Homo sapiens: one gene and its partners. The protein of the gene in region 1 interacts with the protein of each later gene in a pairwise test. Each region holds a gene or a part of one and is shown in the gene's direction. Other genes may lie near its edges.

Region 1 (7,030 bases):
TCAGCAGCAGCGTGCGTCCTTACACGGCAGCCTGTCCTTTTCAAATCAGACCACTGCTTTCCTTTAACTAATGCTGGATCCCCTAGTTCCGCCTTTGGAAATAACGTGGAAATGATTCTCACAATACGATTTGCATTTCCTAAACCAGCTGTCCCCAGCATGGTCTACATTTCCCGAGGAAGTGCTTTCCAGACCGACTCCTCTGTAGAGCCTGGTGGGTGAGGATAGGCTTGGCTGCACACAGCATATGTGTAAGCTACAGAGACTTGTTTCTTTCTTGCACAGGTAACCCAGAGGCAGAGGTTCCAGGCTCAGGTCATTGGCATGTTTTTTGTTTCATGAGGAAGCAGAGGAGCCCCATCTCCCATCTTAATCTCTGCCACCAACTAGGGTGCTGCCCTTGTCCCTGTGACACCTGTACCTGCCACATTCACCTTTGCACTGAGCTTAGTCTTGTGACCACATCTCACCAGACGGGAACTGGGAGGTGTAGTCTCTTCGGGCCTGTGTGTGCCAGCTCGATGCAGTGTCATTCCCATGGAAGGAGGGAGCAAACCCTGCCACAAGCATCCAGAGCTGTCTTCAGATGCGCTCTTGGGCCTGAATCCAGCGTCCCAGGTCTTCCGACCAGAGACGACTGAGGAGGTCGGGCGGCCGCCTCCCTGGATCTGACTGCACATCCATCACTGCAACCTACGACAAAGCTCCTGGGCCACAACCGGCTGGCAGTGAGAGAATAACTGCTAAAAACGTTTCAGGGAGCTGAGTCCAATTTCTTCCCCAACCACAAGACCTGATTGCAGTGGTCCATATAACTATCACCACAGCTCCCTCAAATCAACTCTGCCTTATTATCTTTTTTTTTTTTTTTTTTAAATCCGGGGACCAGGCACGGTGGCTCACGCCTGTAATCCCAGCACTTTGGGAGGCTGATGTGGGCGGATCGTGAGGTCAGGAGTTCAAGACCAGCCTGGCCAACATGGTGAAACCCTGTCTCTACTAAAGATACAAAAAATTAGCTGGGCGTGGTGGTGCATGCCTGTAATCCCAGCTACTCAGGAGGCTGAGGCAGGAGAATTGCTTGAACCCGAGAGGCAGAGGTTGCAGTGAGCCAAGATTACACCATTGCACTGCAGCCTGGGCAATGGCGCAAGACTCTGTCTCAAAAAAATACAAACAAAATTAGCCAGACGTGGTAGTGGGCGCCTGTAGTCCCATCTACTTGGGAGGCTGAGGCATGAGAATCACTTGAACCTGGGAGGCGGAGGTTGCAGTGAGCTGAGATAGCGCCACTGCACTAATCCAGCCTGGGTGACAGAGGGAAACTCTGTCTCAAAAAAAAAAAGATTTTAAAGGCTGAGCTGCCCCCCACCTCTGCTCTCAGAGGTGCCCTGCCCCCACCAGCCATCTCACACCCCACGCTGGGCTCTCATTGGCCACTGACATCTTGTCTTTTTGGCGTCTGCAGCCCCCACGCTGGCAGGTGTAGTCCCTGCGCCTCTTGTCCTCTTGGTCAAGTGAATGACGCATGCAACCTGCAGAGTCCCCAGGACAGAGCAGCCAAGGGACTTGGCCTCAGTCCAAGGGGAAGGTGCCTTGCGGGGGGCCGCTGGAGCAGCGTGTTCCCTGATAGTTGGCGCTGGTTGACAACAGAGAACAGGGTGACCATCGCCTAGAGACAGTCAGGATTCCTGCGGCCACACAGTGCCGGGCACAGACTTTCCAACAACCCTTGGGCCCTTTGCCTCCAATTCCTAGATCTGGTGACTCACCCACCTTCTGGGTCTATAACATTTCTACCCCACTGATAGAGCTGTCACGTGACAGGCAAATCTCTGTCCTTGGTGTCTTTTAGCAAACTGAATGCTCAGGGCACTTGGGCCTTTTGCAGACATTTGTGAGTCTGCCTAACAGCCTTGCTGCTTTCTGTCTGCCTTGTGGCTCTCATCCCTCTTTCCAGCACTTTCTGACCTCCCCTTTGTTATTATTATGATGATTATTTTTTGAGACAGTGTCTTGCTCTGTCACCCAGGTTGGAATGCAGTGGTGTAATCAAAGCTCACTGCAGCCTCAACTTCCTGGGCTTAAGCAATCCTCCCACCTTAGCGTCCCAAGTAACTGAGACTATAGGCACGTGCCACCATGCTCTGCTAATTTTTTATTTTTTAACTTTTTGAAGAGATAGGGTCTTGCTTTGTTGCCCAGGGTGGTCTCGAACTCCTGGCTGAGCTGTCCTCCTGCCTGGGCCTCCCCTTTTTTAAATGCCCCTTGTCAGCCACAGGCAGCTGGCTCCATTATGAAGCCTCTGTTTGTCACCAAAGCCCAACGCCATGGCTCCCTCCCTACCTTGAGGCCTCCTAAAGCCTTGGGTCCCTCCGCCCCACCCCTGCCCCAGGAAGTGGGCTCCACCCTGAGACCCCTTCTCGGCGTTGCAGGTTTATCAGTAAAGAGATCCTGACCATCCGGGAGGCCGTATGGCTCACGGACAACACTTACAAGTACGAGGACCTGGTGAGAATGATGGGCGAGATCGTCTCCGCCTTGGAAGGGAAGATTCGAGTAAGCAGCGGTTCCATTTTCCTTATTAATCTTCGTTGTCGCTGTGCTGGAGGGTGGGGGTGGGCATTCAGCTTTCCTGCTGTGGGAGGGCCTCATGGACTCAGAGAGCAGCTGTCTCTGCTGTGCCCAAAGCCATGGAGCAGGAGGCCACGGTTGCACCACGTCGCCATCTGCGCTGGTGCGCTACGCGTGCAGCATCGGCGTGAACATCATCCGGGCCAGACCCTGCGCTGGGCCTGCATGCGGCACTGCACCAAGGAGCCCCCGAGCGCTGAGAGCCCACACCCCGTCCCGGCTGTCTAGGTCCCCACTGTGGTGGATTACAAGGAGGTCCTGCTGACGCTAGTCCCTGTGGAGCTGAGAACCCAGCACCTGTGCAGCTTCCTCTGCGAGCTCTCCCTGCTGCACACCAGCCTGTCCGCCTACGCCCCAGCCCGCCTGGCTGCCGCAGCCCTGCTCCTGGCCAGACTGACGCACGGGCAGAGTAAGGAGTGGCCCTTCCCAGGGATGCCTGTGTCGGGGAAGGTGCTGACATAGGAGGAGGCTGTGGGGAGGAAAAGAGTCCAGCATCCATTTGTCCTGGTTACTTCTTGGGGGGTGAGATACAGCACGGCTCCTACCTTCAGTGATGTCCCAGATTTCTGACCATGAGCCTGCACGCCCTATGTATGGGTTTTTTTCAAAACTATTTTAAAAGGATTGCAACCCTGAGCTCCAAGAAACTCCACAGCAGAGCCCACAGAGCTATAGAGCGGGAGTGTTCAGGCGGCTGTCACCACAGCCCCTCCGTCCCCTCCATCCCCTCCGTCCCCTCCATCCCCTCCACCCCTGGCCTGCTTTCCTCCCCAGCACAGCCCTGGACCACTCAGCTGTGGGACCTCACCGGATTCTCCTATGAAGACCTCATTCCCTGCGTCTTGAGCCTCCATAAGAAGTGGTGAGTTTTGGCCGGGCGCAGAGGCTCATGCCTGTAACCCCAGCACTTTGGGAGGCCGAGGCGGGCAGATCATTTGAGGTCAGGAGTTTGAGACCAGCCTGGCCAACATGGTGAAACCCCACCTCTACTAAAAATACAAAAATTAGCCAGGCGTGGTGGTGCACGCCTATAATTCCAGCTACTCAGGAGGCTGAGGCAGGAGAATCGCTTGAACCCAGGAAGCAGAGGTTGCAGTGAGTTGATATCACGTCACTGGACTCCAGCCTGGGTGACAGAGCAAGACTCTGTCTCTAAAAACAACTGGCCAGGCATGGTGGCTCACACCTGTAATCCCAGCACTTTGGGAGGCCAAAGCGGGCGGATCACCGAGGTCAGGAGTTCAAGACCAACCTGGTCAACGTGGCAAAACCCTGTCTCTACTAAAAAAAAAAAAAAAAAAAAAAAAATTAGCTGGGCGTGGTGGCATGCGCCTGCAATCCCAGCTACTCAGGAGGCTGAGACAGGAGAATCACTTGAACCCGGGAGGCAGAGGTTGCGGTGAGCCGAGATTGCGCCATTGCACTCCAGCCCAGGCAACGAGTGAAACTCCATCTCAAAAAAAAAAAAAAAAGTTCCAGTAGTTTCTTATCTCACACATTTTTCACATTGAGAGCAGCTGCTCCCAACCCAAGCTCATTGCACAGGCAGCAGAACATACTAGAAAAAATGAGGGCATCTCCCTGACCCGTGGTAACTTGTGCGTGTTGTCAAGTTGTCATCTAGCTCAGGCACTGGCACACCGTGGCCCTCAGGCGGCATCTGGCTGCTTTTGCGAATGGGGTTTTCTTGGCAGCAGCCACCCTCACTGGTTTCCACATTGTCTGCTGCTGCTTTTGCTCTGGCGGTGGCTGAGCTCATAGTGCAGCGGACACCACGTGGCCCCCAGTCAGGAAAATACTCCCCTTCCCTTGAGAGAACAGCTTCTGCCCTGATGCAGCTGCTGGGATAGAGCTATCCTCTGTCTCACTGAGAAGATGGAGACTGCGGGTGGGTCCCTTGCGCCGTCGTGCCCGGATGTGACCCCCTGTCTGCCCCAGCCCCACTGGGCTTCCCTCCACCTGCCCCGGCCCCTCCGCCCTTCTCTCTGGTGAGCCTGGCCCGGCCCTCGCCACATCTAAGCCCCTTCACTCGCCCTGGCAGCTTCCCTTCAGCCCACGTTGGTTTGTTCCATGCAGTTCATGAAGTCCCTACCGTGGTCCAGGCGCTGGGGGAGAGGGCAGGACAGAGAGTTCAGAGGTCAGGTCGTGACGAGAGAAACAGCAGGCAGGCGCGCGGGGCAGGTGGCGCGGGCGGGGGCGACTCCCTTCAGGGAGCGTAGCCGGGGTCACCTGGGCATCTGAGTCCAGGGCAAAGGGGGCAGCCATGCCAGGGCCCAGTGCAGACCAGTGGGGCTGGGGGCCATGAGTGGAGTCATGGCAGTGAGGGGTGAGGGGGACAAGCACGGGGCTGAATTTGTACCCGGCCAGCCATCTCCGTCTCCCCTCCTCAGCTGTGCTCACAGACTTGCTCCTCCCACCTCTCGGCACCCCCACTCCCTGGTCTCCCACTTCCCCGCTTCTGCCATGGCTTCCTTTTCCTCAGCCAAATCCAGCAGACTCAGCGGTGTGGGCTTTTTTTTCCTTTTTTGAGTTGGGGGCCCAGGCTGGAGTGCAGTGGCACCATCCTAGCTCACTGCAGCCCTGACCTCCCGGGCTCAAGGGATTCTTTTGTGTCAGCCTCCCGAGTAGCAGAAACCACAGGCACCAGCACAGCAGGCCTGGGTGCTTTTCTCCAGCCAGCATTACGCTGACCCTCCCTCCCTCGGGGGCTTCGGCTTCCTGCCCTAGGCCATGCGGCCTAGGTGTTGGTCTCCCTTCCCACCCACCCCAAGGGGCCCCGGAATTCTGGCTTTCTGCCACTCCTCAGACTCCTTCCTGGGAGACTTCACCACTTCCAGAATTCAGGCCACATCTCAACCTTGACCTGCCACCCCCCTGCCAGCGTGACTCAGCCAACGGCCTGTTGCCTGTTCTGGCCCTGGTGGGTCGTGGTGCATGAAGCCCTGTGTGCCCAGCTGAGGCCTCCACCAGCCGCTGCTGCTTCTCCATCCCTGCATCCTCGTCAGTGCAGTTTCCTCGTGCGCTCACAGCTTGGGGACTGGAGCTATCCGTGGCGGCTGCCCGGCCTCCTGGAACACTGTGGCAGCCGCCCCGCACATGTCCCGTGTACGTCACCCAGGGCCTCGCTGTCCGGCTTCCAGGATGAGATCAGAACTCCCTGGGGGTCTCGATGCCCTTGAGCAGCCCCTTCTGTGGCCCATCTGCTTTTTCTCCCACCATGCTGTGCTCCAGCCACAGGGGACCTGGTGGCATCTCCCGGGCTTTGGCATGTGCTGCTGCTCATGCTGCTTTCTCCTGCAGTGCCCGGACCCTGTGCCTTCTGGGCAAGGAACGAGGCTGACAGTAGAAGGGTTCGCATGGGTCTCGTCCCACCCACCTTTGCTTATGGGGAGCACAGATCGTCCCAACCCTGGCCACCAAAAGCTGTTTCTGGGCTGCGTTTATTCTCTTCCTCCTGAAGAAGTTAATTTTTTTTCCAAACAAGATAAATTAGAAACGTTATTTAGAAACTACACTTCCTTTGATTGTGTGATTTAACGGGCTTTTATTCACACAGTTGTGCTTGTCATCACAACAATCAAATTGATGACATTTTCACTTTCCCCAAAGGGACAACACACCCCTCAGCTGTCACCCTCCCGTTCCCCCCAACTTCCTCAGCGCTAGATGACCCCCAGTAGTCTACTTTCTGTCCATGGATGTTTCCCATTCTGTACATTCCATATAAATGGCGTCATCGGACAAGTGGCCTTCTGTGTCTAGGTGATTTCCCTCGCGGTAACGTTTGCTGGGTTTGTCCATGTGGTGTGTGTCCCTGCTTTGTTCTTTTTCATGGCTGAATAATATTCCCCTGCATGGACCACATGTGTTTATCCATCCCGCAGCTGGTGGACATTTTGCCTATTGTGAACAGTCCTGCCATGAACATTCTAGTACAGGTTTCTGTGTGGACATAGTTTTTCCTTTTTCCTGGGTCTTTACCTAGAGAGGAATTGCTAGGTCCTGTGGTGACTGAGTTTAACCATTCGGGGAACTGCCAGGTCAGATTCCAGAGTGACTGCACCATTTTGCATTCTCATTGCTCACTTCAGTGAACTGAAGCTAAAAATGGGGTGGGGGTGCCTCACATGTCCACTCCACGTGACTCTGTTTCCAGCTTCCATGATGACGCCCCCAAGGACTACAGGCAAGTCTCTCTGACCGCCGTGAAGCAGCGGTTTGAGGACAAGCGCTATGGAGAAATCAGCCAGGAAGAGGTGCCTCCCTCCCGCCACCTGGGCGTCTCATGGGGTGCTGGGGTGTGGGCGGGCCTCACCCTCGGGGCCTCTGCACCCCCTAACTCTAGCTTCCCCTCAGGTGCTGAGCTACAGCCAGTTGTGTGCTGCATTAGGAGTGA
Region 2 (7,030 bases), on another chromosome or scaffold:
CTTGTTTTTTCTCCCAAGCCCAACCCCCAAACCTCTGGTTCCAATCCCTGGTAGCTCCCTGAGAGACAGGCATGACCACTGATTTCCACAACCCAGGGAAGCACCCTCATAGACTATTTTTTGAATGACCTTGTTCTGGAGTTTCACCCACAGACTGACACTGGGGGGCTGCTCTGTTCCCAGAGGCAGGGGAATGTTTGAAGACCCCACCAGACCTGGGAAGCAGCAACAGCTGGGGCAGGAGCTGAAGGAGCTGATGAACACGGAGCAGGCCTTGGACCAGCTCATCCAGAGCTGCTCTCTGAGCTTCAAGCACCTGACTGAGGACAAGGCCAACAAGAGATATCCTCCTTGGTTGGGGGAAGGTGTCAGGGAGCAGGAACCTGTTGCATGTTTATATCTATCCTGAGTTGATTCAGTAACTTACCCTAAGGGTCTGGCATCTGTTTCTTCCTTCCTGGGTGGCTTTTCTTCTCAAGTCTATTTTTAAAATTATTTATTTATTTTTTTTAGAGACAAGGACTCATTCCGTCATCCAGGCTGTAGTACAATGGCATGATCATAGCTCGCTATAGCCTCGCCCTCCTGGGTTCAAGTGATCCTCCCACCGCAGCCTCCTGAATAGCTGGAACTACAGTCATGTGCCACCATGCCTGGCTAATTCTTTATTTTTTGTATAGACAGGGTCTCGCTTTGTTGCCCAGGCTGGTCTCTAACTCTTGGCTTCAGTCGATCCTCCTGCCTCAGTCTCCCAAAGTGCTGAGATTACAGGCATGAGTCACTGTGCCTGGCCTCAAGTTTATTAAAGGTATTTTTTCATTATTGAAAATAAGCCAAGTAAATTTCTTTAAATCTGGAAAACGGAGAAAAAGAATGATGAGCTGCCACCTTAACATAGCCATTGTTCTTGAACTGCACACAGAATGTGTTTTATTTCAATATAGTTGTAATGTAGTTGTGTGCCTGCTGAACATAGCTTTTTTTTTTTTTTTTTTTTTTTTTTTTTTTTTTGAGACAGAGTCTCACTCTTGCCCAGGATGGAGTGCAGTGGCACAATCTCGGCTCGCTGCAACCTCCACCTCCTGGGTTCTAGTGACTCTCCTGCCTCAGCCTCCTAAGTAGCTGGGATTACAGGTGCCCGCCACCATGCCTGGCTAATTTTTTTTTTTTTTTTTTGAGATGGAGTCTTACTATTGCTGCCCAGGCTGGAGTGCAGTGCCATGATCTTGGCTCACTGCAACCTCTGCCCCCTGGGTTCAAGCGATTCTCCTGCCTCAGCCTTCCAAGTAGCTGAGATTACAGGCGCCTGCCACCACACCCGGCTAATTTTTGTATTTTATGTAGAGACGGGGTTTCACCATGTTGGTCAGGCTGGTCTCGAACTCCTGACCTCAGGTGATCCACCCACCTCAGCCTTCGTAAGTGCTAGGGTTACAGGAGTGAGATACCGCACCCGGCCTTCACACCCAGCTGATTTTTGTATTTTTAGTGGAGATGGAGTTTCACCATGTTGGCCAGGCTGGTCTTGAATTCCTGACCTCAAGTTATCCACCCGCCTCAGCCTCCCAAAGTGCTAGGATTACAGGCATGAGCCGCCGCGTTCGGCCGAATATCTTTATACATAGAATGCTTTCCCATATTTTTACTTGTTTCCTAGGTCAGATCCCTAGGATTGAAATGATGAGGTCAAAGAGCATGGACTTTGCTAAGGCTCTTTCATACATTTTCCAAAATCATTTCATATCTAATTGGTTTTGGATCTGACCTTGTATTTTTGGAAGGATGCTAGGCATTGTGAGAAATATAAAGAAATAAAACACATCTTCCTGCCTTCTCAGAGCTAATGATCTAGTTTGAGAGATGAAGCCTTTACATAAGGCAACATTTTTTATGATTTATAATGTAAGGCAACATTTTTTATGATTTATATTCCCATTTGCTTTCCAAAGGGATCTAAGGTAGCTTATGAGATTAACAGGTTACAGATTGTATTATTTCTAAGTTGTACAAGGAGTGAGAAAGTAATGTTCAGAGGCTTAGGAGAGGTGGGTGAAGGTGCTCCCTGGCAGGTTTGGGGTTTGAATTTTGACCAGACAGTCACTTTTCTTGACTCTCCTGCCCTACGCTGGCCTATGTGACTTACCAGGATATCCGTGCTGTTGGCAACTTTAAGGAGCAGACAGTGATTGCCGTCAAGGCCCCTCCGCAGACGAGACTGGAAGTGCCCGACAGGACTGAGGTGAGAGGGGAAATATTTGGTGGAGAGCAGGGTTGAGACCCTGCCAGGGAGCGTTCCAGGCGGCTCTGCAGACTCTGTCCCTGGCACTGCCTAGCCCCATGCTTTGCAGGCCCATTGTGGTGTCCATGGCAATATTGGTGGCCTTCAAGCTTGGGCAGAAATGGCAGAAGCTGGAAAGGGCAACGGAGACTGAGTAGTGGCCTGAGAAAATCTCTGTTCCTGGTTTCTTTCTGCATCCCACCAGCCCTGGGTTCCTGCGCACATGCACACTCATGCCCACGTATGACGGTGTCAATACTCATGAAAATCCTTTCATGCTGACCGTGCTTTCCCAGGTTAAAGACCAAAATTCCTGACACTCCCTATGAGGCTTCGGTGCTCTGAGACCCCAGCTGACGTTGCCAACCTCCTTTTCCCCGCTGCCCCATCTGTCTTTGTTTTGGCCACACTGACCTGTCTGCAGTTTCCCCATTGCACTAAGCTCATTCCTAGTATGAGATCTTCTGTTTTGTTTGATTTATTTATTTATTTATTTATTTATTTTTGAGACAGAGTCTCACTCTGTTGCCCAGGCTGGAGTGCAGTGACACAATCTTGGCTGACTGCAATCTCCGCCTCCTGGGTTGAAGCGATTCTCCTGCCTCAGCCTCCCAAGTAGCTGAGATTACAGATGCCCGCCACTACTCCCGGCTAAGTTTTGTATTTTTTTTTTAGTAGAGATGGGGTTTCACCATGTTGGTCAGGCTGGTCTTGAACTCCTGACCTCATGATCCACCTGCCTCGGCCTCCCAAAGTGCTGGGATTACAGGCATGAGCCACCACACTCAACCTATTTGATTTTTTTTAAGACAGCGTCTTGCTCTGTCACCCAGGCTGGAGTGCAGTGGCATGATCTCAGCTCACTGCAACCTCTGCCTCCCGGGTTCAAGCCATCCTCCCACCTCACCCTCCTGAGTAGCTGGGACCACAGGTGCATGCCACCATGCCTAGCACATTTTTTGTTTTTTTTGTAGAGACGAGGTTTTGCCACGTTGTCCAGGCTGGTCTTGAACTTCGGCATAGAAGTGATTTGCCCGCCTTGGCCTCCCAAAGTGCTGGGATTATAGGCGTGAACCACCGCACCTAGCCGTGCAAGACCCTCATACATGCTCTTCCCCTCGAGCTGAAATGTTCTTCCCTCTCTGCCTGATTTACCGCTATTCATCCTACAGGTCTCAACTCAAATGTCACTTCCTCAAGGAAGCCTTCTCTGATTACCTCCAGACTTCATAAACACCTGTGCTTTTCCGCTGCCTTTAATTTAATCTCCATTTGCTGAGGTATATTTGGCATGATTACACGATTGCATTCTGCTTCATCTATTAGGGTGTAAGCTTCACAAGAGAATGTTCTACTCACCTTGTATCCCTTGCCCAGAGCCTGGCATATTATAAGGACTCAAGAAATAATTTATTTAAAGGAAGAACTGGGGCTGCAGAGACAATTAAGGTCCTGCCCCCACCCTTGGAGGAGTTCACGACTTAGTGGGAAAAAGACGCTGTCATTTATAGACTGAAGATGTGCTTTGCAAGCATAGAGAAAGGGTAGTTAGAGGAGGTATCCCAGGTGGGGACAGTTAAACTAGGTCTTAAAGAATGAATAGGGTTTTTGCTAGGTGCAGTTCTGTGTGAGTACAGGCATGGAGACCTGGACATGTGCCTGGATGGCATGCATGTCATCAGTTGTGGCTTAAGTTGCGGTTATGTGGTAGGGAAGGGACAGGGTGGGAAGACCAAATACTAGGACTCTTGGTTACAGGTAACAGAAAGCCAAGTCCAACTGGCTTCAGCGGGAGGTATGGGTAGGGGTGGTGGGAACCAAATGACAAGTCCTGGGGGAGATTCAGAGATTGCTGGCAAGGTTGGATGTAGATGCTCAAACTATGACTTCAGGTCTGTCTCACGCTTTTCATCTCTCTGCTTTTCTCTGTGCTGACTCCATTCCCAGGTGGGCTCTCTCCTTGTGGTGGTAGAGGTAGCTTTTATGATACCAGCTCAGCAACCCCAGTGGGAAGGGGGCTTCCATTTCCCACAAGTCCAGCAAAAGTCCTGGGCCTAGTGCTGGTTGGATCCACCTGAGCCATGGGCCATCCTGAACCAATCATGTCACACTAACTTTCCTGGCTGCGTCACAAGCTCACCCACTGGCATTGGGGAAGGGTGCTGCCCCCCCCCCCCCGCCCCAAAACTAGATGACCTGAGAGTGGGGGGAAGAGTGATTTCCCACAGGAAAATCAAGGTGTTCCCCCTAAAAGAAGTGGGCTTCAGGGCCAGACAGCAGAAACAGCGGAAGTCCACCTTAGTTAGGCCAGATGGAGTTGGTCTCAGTGCCAGCCCAGGGTTTGAGCTTGCACCCATGGATGGCAGCAGCCACGTGCGTCTGTCCATACACACTAAGTGTAAGTGTCCAGCTGCCCAGAGCAATGACCTGGCTTCTCTTCCTCCTCCAGGACAACCTGCAGATATATCTCAAGAGCACCCAAGGGCCCATCGAAGTCTACCTGTGCCCAGAGGAGGTGCAGGAGCCGGACAGTCCTTCCGAGGAGCCTCTCCCCTCTACCTCCACCCTCTGCCCCAGCCCTGACTCTGCCCAGCCCAGCAGCAGCACCGACCCTAGCATCATGGAGCCCACAGCATCCTCAGGTAGGTCCCTTGTCCAGAGGGACAGGAGGTGGGGGGAGAGACCGGCCTTAGTTTTCTCTTCTATATCAATGTTTGTTGAAAACCTCCTGTTTTATCCAGCAGCTGGGGATGTAGTCATCCTACCCCACACATGTGCATTGTACTTAATGCTTTATAAAGCCTCACTAGGAAGGCTGGTGCTGCTCCAGGGCAGAGGAAGGCCTGGATTTGAATCCCAGCCCATCCACTTACCAGCTATGTGACCTTAGACAAGTTACTTAACCTCTCTTGGCCTCAATTTTTCTCATCTGTGAGTTGGGCGCAGTAATTAATACTGTCTAACTCATAGGTTGTTGTGAGATTATATAGCTCACGCCTATAATCCCAGCAGTTTGGGAGACTGAGGCAGGAGAATCATTTGAGACCAGGAGTTCAAGAGCAGCCCGGGCAACATAGGGATACCCTGTCTCTATAAAAAAATTTACAAATTAGCCGAGTGTGGTGGCACACGCCTGTAGTCCAGCTACTCGGGAAGCTGAGGTGGGAGGAACACTTGAGCCATGGAGGTTGAGGCTACAGTGAGCTCTGATCATGCCACTGCACTCCAGCGTGGGCAACAGAGGGAGACCCTGTCTCAAAAATAAAAATAAGAATAAAATTTTAAAAAATAGGCCAGGCGCTGTGGTCCCCACCTATAATCCCAGCACTCTGGGAAGCTGAGGTGGGAGGATCACTTGAGCCCAGGAGTTCAAGACCAGCCTGGGCAACATAATGAGACTCCATCTCTAATAAAAATAAAATAATAAAATTTGCCCATTAAAAAAAAAATAAGACATAGAGGTGATGTGTCTTACCTAAGGTCTCCCAGCTGGGAGGCAACAGAGCTGTGTCTTGAACCTTGGTCTACATACTCCCAGCCCAGTGCTCTCTCCACAAGGCATAGATCAAATCGAAGAAGGGGCTTCTGGCTGGGAGGTGGACGGTATGGTTAAGAGCTGGCTACCCCTGATGGAAGGTAGTACAGGTAAGTTGCCAGGGAGCAAAGTTCCTGAGAGCTTCCCAAGGAGGGTGGGAGTCCAGAAGGAGTACAAATGGAAGCCTGTAAAGGCCCCTCTCCAGAACAGTTTTTGCCTTTTCCTGGATCACACATCCGGCTAGACTGGCAGGATTCTTCAAGGCTATGTAGGCCAGTGTTCCACTTTTTGTCTTCTTAGCAGCAGAATTCTCTTAAGTAGAACCCTAGCGTTTAGACCAAGGTAGAGGTAGAGCTGGGCTGATGGAAGAGGCTTGCTGGAAGGGCTCTGCAGTACACTGGTTGTGTCCATTTCTCTAACTCAGAGGTTAATAAACTATTGCCTGCAGGTCAAATCTGACCTGCTTTTAATGACCCATGAGCTAAGAATGGTTTTACATTTTTAAAGAGTTGTGGGAGAAAGAAAAAGAAGGCAACTATGTGACAGAGACCACAAGTGTCCCACAAAGCCTAAAATACTCTCCAGCTTTTTTTTTTTTTTTTTTTTTTGAGACAGTCTCGCTCCGTCACCAGGCTGGAGTGCAATGGTATGATCTTGGCTCACAGCAACCTCTGCCTCCTGGGTTCAATCAATTCTCCTGCCTCAGCCTCCCAAGTAGCTGGGATTACAGGTGCCCGCCATCACACCCAGCTAATTTTTTTTTTTTTTGTATTTTTAGTAGAGACAGGGTTTCCCCATGTTGGCCAGCCTGGTCTTGAACCCTTGACCTCAGGTGATCCACCTGCCTTGGCTTCCCAAAGTGCTGGGATTACAGGCTCCAGCTCTTTATAGAAGTTTGCTGTCCCCAACTAACTCAACCCTTCTTTTAACACATGAATGAACACAGGCCCAGAGAGGGCAAGTGGCTTCCCTAAGGTCACACAGCAAGTTGATGGCAGAGCTGGGACCAGAGCCCAGCCTCCCAACTCTTCTCTAATGATCTCTCCTGTGTCTGTCAGGCCTCATCAGGGACCAGAGCTTCTCCCTGTGCTAGCCATCTGTCCCTTGGGACACCTCCCCAGTGCCTATCTCCCATCCCAGACCTCTGCCCCACCCTCTGGTCCATCCTCCTCCTGCTGTGCCTCCTCACTCAAGTGTCAGCATGCGCATAGCCCTCC
Region 3 (5,644 bases), on another chromosome or scaffold:
ACATACGGCATATATGTATCATATCCAGTGATCAGATGAGGAAGATGAGGCTCGGGGAGGATAGGTTACTCCCCCAGTTCTGTTTTTGTGGGATAAATTGCTTCCCTGTGTTATCTTCAAATATTTTTTTGCTTGTTCTGAGAGGAAAGAATCTTGGAGTGATTTGCTTGATTTTGCTTTTAAAAGGCATGTGTCTCAAACTTGTTGTAGGTGGAAAGTGAGACCAACGTCCTGCAGGACGGCTCCCTCATTGACCTGTGTGGGGCCACTCTCCTCTGGAGAACAGCAGATGGGCTTTTTCATACTCCAACTCAGAAGCACATAGAAGCCCTCCGGCAGGAGATTAACGCCGCCCGGCCTCAGTGTCCTGTGGGGCTCAACACCCTGGCCTTCCCCAGCATCAACAGGAAAGAGGTGGTGGAGGAGAAGCAGCCCTGGGCATATCTCAGTTGTGGCCACGTGCACGGGTACCACAACTGGGGCCATCGGAGTGACACGGAGGCCAACGAGAGGGAGTGTCCCATGTGCAGGACTGTGGGCCCCTATGTGCCTCTCTGGCTTGGCTGTGAGGCAGGATTTTATGTAGACGCAGGACCGCCAACTCATGCTTTCACTCCCTGTGGACACGTGTGCTCGGAGAAGTCTGCAAAATACTGGTCTCAGATCCCGTTGCCTCATGGAACTCATGCATTTCACGCTGCTTGCCCTTTCTGTGCTACACAGCTGGTTGGGGAGCAAAACTGCATCAAATTAATTTTCCAAGGTCCAATTGACTGACGCCCTTGACAGCCATCTACGACTTTATTAACAGGTTACTGTGAAGATTTTGCCACTAACTCTAGATTTTACCTTTTTGTAATGCTGTTTATCAGAGGAGGGTGACAGGGGCTGGAAATAAAGAGAGGGGACATGGTGATGAAACATGGCAGGAGTGTAACAGATACCAGTGGTGTGTTGCATGCTCAAAACAGCAGCGTCGTCATTGAAGTCTGCTTGATTAAACCATAATATCTTTGTAATAATTGGATTTAAAATGCTATGCTTCTATTTTTAACCTTGGGTTTTTAACCAAGTTTTTTTTTTTTTGTAATCTTGGACAAGACTTTAAATCATATTTTACAGATGTAGAAGAAATTTATTCAAAAGTGTGGGCTCATGAAGTTCACTTCAGTGCAGTGTGGTGTAGGTGTTACGCGAAGGGCGCACAGTGTCTAGAAATACTTGATCGTGGCTCAAACCTGACCAGACAGCAGAGGGGCGGCTCTGTACAGTGTGACTGGTGGACAGATGGCCTTAGGCACAGGTGGTTTTGAAATCTGGGGCTTTTTCTGATTTATTTTTCTGACTTGTTGGGGGAGAGAATATTCATAACTTGTGGGCTTTTTTTTTTTTTAACTTCAGTGGAATTTACTTTAGATATTCATTCATCAAATACATGGGACTTCACAAACAATTTTCCATAACTTTTTAGCCTGTCTTTTGTTATTTCTGCCTAATATGATTTGCCCCGATACTCATCTTGCACGGCCAGAACTGTTTGGTTGATTAAAATACATCAGCTCTTAAAAACTCATTAACTGAGGGTAATTACAGTAGTAGACATGGTCTGGGTACTATACTACCATGTTTATTTGCTGACTGAATTAAGATTTAAGAATGATTAAAAATAAGCTTTTACTTTTTAAAACCACTTGAGGTTTCATAAAGCTTGGGGTTTTTTTTTTTCCTTTGTTAAGAAAGCCAACCAATCACAATGATATAGTCATTGTTGTGCACTCCCTTTTCACCATCTGTCACCTTCCCTTGCAGCTTAAGGAGCCCAGTAAGTTTTGAAAATGTTTGCGAATCAAACTAAATTTAAGTGGGATGATTAGATATACACAACACCAAGTGGTACATCTGCAGAGATAATTCAAAATTCCTGCTTTTGAGAGAGCAAATGAGTGTTGCTGAGGAATAATTAAATGAGAATTTCATAGGAGCTCCACCATTCCTGTTACTTTCATTTCATTTTGATTAATAATTCTTGGATGCTTGGCATCGATCGTATCACTGCTCCTAGAAGGTAAAGATCCTTTAGGACATGAGACTGGTAGAAGCTGGCTGAGATAAAATAAGTATTTATTTAAACTAATGTTCTCTTAATTTGACCATTGCAGATTTGGGTGACTTTTTTTTAACCTTTGTACATATACGTAATTTATATGATTCTAATGTACTATATCCATACTTGAATTGGTTTTTTCGTATTTTGCCTACTGGCAAATATTTTGCCTATTTTCAGTCGTTCTAACCTATTTGAATACGCTTTTCCTTAAAGTGATACGATAATATTACTCTTGATTGCTGCTGCTTAATTTGATGTAATATGTTTAAAGTTCAGCCTCTCAGTTTTAATATAGCTTTATTTTTCAGTGGAGATCATTGTTTAGGATGAGACATTTTTGGTTTTGGTTTTGTTTGGGTAAATTTTAAATGGTGTGAAAATCGATGACAACAGTCCTCTTACAGATAGCTTGCTGTATTCTGTATAGCTTACTCTACCTGCAGACAGAAAATGAAAGAAAAAAATGGACTTGCCTAGAATAATATATTGAATGCCTTTTGATTTAGCCAGAGTCTCTGATGATTAGCTTTCACTGATAGAGTATGTCTTTTCAGCCTGTAATTCTTTGGGCCCCAAAGAATGACAAAGGAGGCACTCGTTCTCTTTTCTTGCTGTATGCCTAGAAAGTGGTTGAAGGATTCTTGATGCCCTAAAACCATCTTGTAAGCTAAATGGTCTTGCATCCAGAAAGGCCAGATTTTACCTACCAAGAAAAAAAGATATTTTTCCAGAGAGTTAGGTATATCATAATTTTCCATTTCAAGTCCTGTTTATAAGTCTAGTCATTCTGCAACGTGACATATCCCCCAAAATGAAGTTACCTTCCAAGTTGGACACGTCCCGTAGTTGGGCATATGTCTAACTAAAAGTTTCTGACTTTTAGTAAATTCAGCTTAAATATAAGTTGAAATTTGGGAAATAATTTCCAAGCTCTTGGAAGGGGTAACAGTGAACCGCCCTCCATGGGCTCCACATCTTTTCCTTTGGCTTCCAAAGTCAGGTCCCGCCCACCCTGCCTAAGGAACTGCAGAGAGGTGGCAAATCAGCAAAAAGGACACCAGGCTCTTCTTGGCCACTTGTAGGAAGATCCCTTTACAATTTTGACTAAGGAGATTTTTTTTTTCACAGTTGAGTTAGTTTGTGAAAATAAAGAACTCTGTAGCTCACCAAGGTGGAGAAACGCAATTCAGAAAAGTAATTTCTCCAAGGTCACTTCTTTTTTTATGTCTTGCCATCACTTTAAAGGACTAGCCCCACTCCCCCATGTGTATACACAAGGAAATTGCAGACCAATTAGTTGTCTTGGCCTGACTCTAATGCCTTTTGCAAGTAGCTTTCCAGAAGTAAAAGTCCCAGTGATGTATTCCCATAGAAATATTTTTCAGTTGTTTATGTCGTTTACTACAAAAAAAAAGATTCAGAGTGGATGGAGTACAACTCTGAGTATTTTTCTAGTCCGGAATTTTTTATTAATAATCGGTGCTGCCGGGTCATGCATGCTGCAACTCTCAACATTTCCCTTATTTGGTTCAGCTTTTAGCAAAAAGGGCTACAGTTCACCCTGCAGAGTATTAAGGTTTCTGGATTTTTTTCTCCCAACTGTGGCCCAAAAGAATTAAAATCTGTTAATATAAATAGAGAACATATTTATCATTCCTCGATAGTTAATTATAGACTTTGGTACCTTTGTGCCTCAGGGAAGCCACGTGATATAACTGGTTATAGAATTTCAGGGTTAGGGTTTAAAGAAAGGAGAAAGCCATTGGAAAAATGATGGGCTCCATTAAGGAGACTAATGAATCTGGATGCAGAAATATGTCAGAAACTGGCATAAACATGATTGTAGTAGAATTTATTTTCCAGTACCAATAGGGAAATTATTTTAAGTTATTACATTTACTGTATTGGGAAACTTGAGGAGAACTCTTTAGTTCATAAAGCTTCAATGTCTTTTTTTTTTTTTTCATGGAAAAACTCAAACCTCTGTTATTTGGGAGCTCAGTATTGTGTGGACACTTACGAGAGTTTTCTGCTTAATTGAAGTGTAATATAGGTTGTAGAATTGTTACCTGCAGTTCTATGGTTTTGTTTCACTTCTTTTCTTTTTTAAAGCCATTCTGTTCTTTGGATGTGCTTGAAAGGGTGTGTGATTACACCATTGTTAATGCTGGGTAAAAACTATCTTCTTGCAGCCTTGCCTCATAACAGTGGAATTTCTGATAGACAAACCACAGGACTTTGATTTTAAGCCAAATCCATCTCCATCCCTTTACTGTCAATCTTCTGTCCCAGTAGTTTAGCCTTTGTGGCTTAGGTTATGATGCGCCTCCTTCTGTGCGACCAATGAGACGACTTCAGCATCTTTTTAAAATAATCTAAGCATCATTGAAGCAGTAACACAAAAAAAAGGTTCAGTATTTTCTTTTTAGTATAACTTACATCCTTTCAAATAAGTCTTTGCCCTCATGAAGAATCCCTAGAGGAAGATAAGGAAAATAAGTATTTTCCAGTTTTGCTTGACAGTTTCTAAACAAACAAAAATAAACTCAATGAAAGGAAAGATGTTTCTTTTTAGCTGAGATGACAGATTGCTTCTCTGTATTAAATAGTCTAGAAGTTAAGGGGATGGTCACATTTACCATGTATTGTGTTATTAGCAGTTAAATTTTATGAATATGTTTGTAAAATTGTTGTTTTATATTTCATGTCAAATTGAAAAGTTTATTTCTTCACTATTGTACCTGTGGAAATACAAGCCATTTTACAGGAAAAAATCTTCAAAAACTATTAAATGGATATCAGCCTGTTTGTGAGCCATTGTCTTCAGATTCTGTGGTTGTCACTGAGTTCATTAGGACATTTAGTAGGTTGATACGAGTAGAACTGATTTTTTTCACTTCTCTAACTTCCAAGTTAATCTCCAGCTGTTGAGTTTATTAATTGTTTTATATTCTGCACAATACATATTTAAACCTTGATTCTGAAAATCCCCTACATTTTTTAATTAAAGAAATTTCCTTGGTGCCTATATTACTATTTCTCGTGACATTACATCACTGTCAAATAAAGTTAACTTCCAGGGGAATTTAACCTGACTTGTAGAATTAATGGATTTTTGTCATGATCATTTCAGCCATATTGCTGCTCTTGTGACAGTCTTCATTCACTTTTAACAACATAATAAGGATTGTGTATAAGCCTTCAAGCCTTCCTTGAAGCCTTAAACTAATATATCTATCATAAGAAAATGTATATATTTATGACAAATTTTGTTCTCATCACATTGATATTCAAAGAGTTTTAGTATTATTGAGAGAAACAGATTTTTCATTTCCAGAAAAAAAATGCACATTTATATAGGCTTTTATTTCAGGGGATAAGTGTTCCATACTTTGTCAAATCTAAGATGCCACGAATTGTGAGATGTGTTATAGAAAATCACAACTGGTTATAATTGTAAGTTACATTCCATTGGGCAAGGAATACACCTCACACAGCATACAAACATTAAATCAAAATGGGTCAAAGAGCTACAAC

Evidence for each region. The genes of interacting proteins can lie anywhere in the genome.
Region 2: the proteins of CCNF (region 1) and E2F2 interact in a two-hybrid assay, tested with the Homo sapiens proteins (one study listed by BioGRID).
Region 3: the proteins of CCNF (region 1) and PELI2 interact in a two-hybrid assay, tested with the Homo sapiens proteins (one study listed by BioGRID).

The regions. Positions count from the first base shown.
Region 1 is NC_000016.10:2,446,420-2,453,449, forward strand, and holds part of CCNF (cyclin-F), read left to right. Parts: intron 1-2,435; coding exon 2,436-2,559; intron 2,560-2,862; coding exon 2,863-3,043; intron 3,044-3,408; coding exon 3,409-3,496; intron 3,497-6,790; coding exon 6,791-6,890; intron 6,891-6,990; coding exon 6,991-7,030. UniProt on the Homo sapiens protein: Substrate recognition component of a SCF (SKP1-CUL1-F-box protein) E3 ubiquitin-protein ligase complex which mediates the ubiquitination and subsequent proteasomal degradation of target proteins.
Region 2 is NC_000001.11:23,514,225-23,521,254, reverse strand, and holds part of E2F2 (transcription factor E2F2), read left to right. Parts: intron 1-183; coding exon 184-342; intron 343-2,124; coding exon 2,125-2,239; intron 2,240-4,727; coding exon 4,728-4,920; intron 4,921-7,030. UniProt on the Homo sapiens protein: Transcription activator that binds DNA cooperatively with DP proteins through the E2 recognition site, 5'-TTTC[CG]CGC-3' found in the promoter region of a number of genes whose products are involved in cell cycle regulation or in DNA replication.
Region 3 is NC_000014.9:56,296,390-56,302,033, forward strand, and holds the end of PELI2 (E3 ubiquitin-protein ligase pellino homolog 2), read left to right. Parts: intron 1-210; coding exon 211-777; 3' UTR 778-5,135; downstream 5,136-5,644. UniProt on the Homo sapiens protein: E3 ubiquitin ligase catalyzing the covalent attachment of ubiquitin moieties onto substrate proteins. Involved in the TLR and IL-1 signaling pathways via interaction with the complex containing IRAK kinases and TRAF6.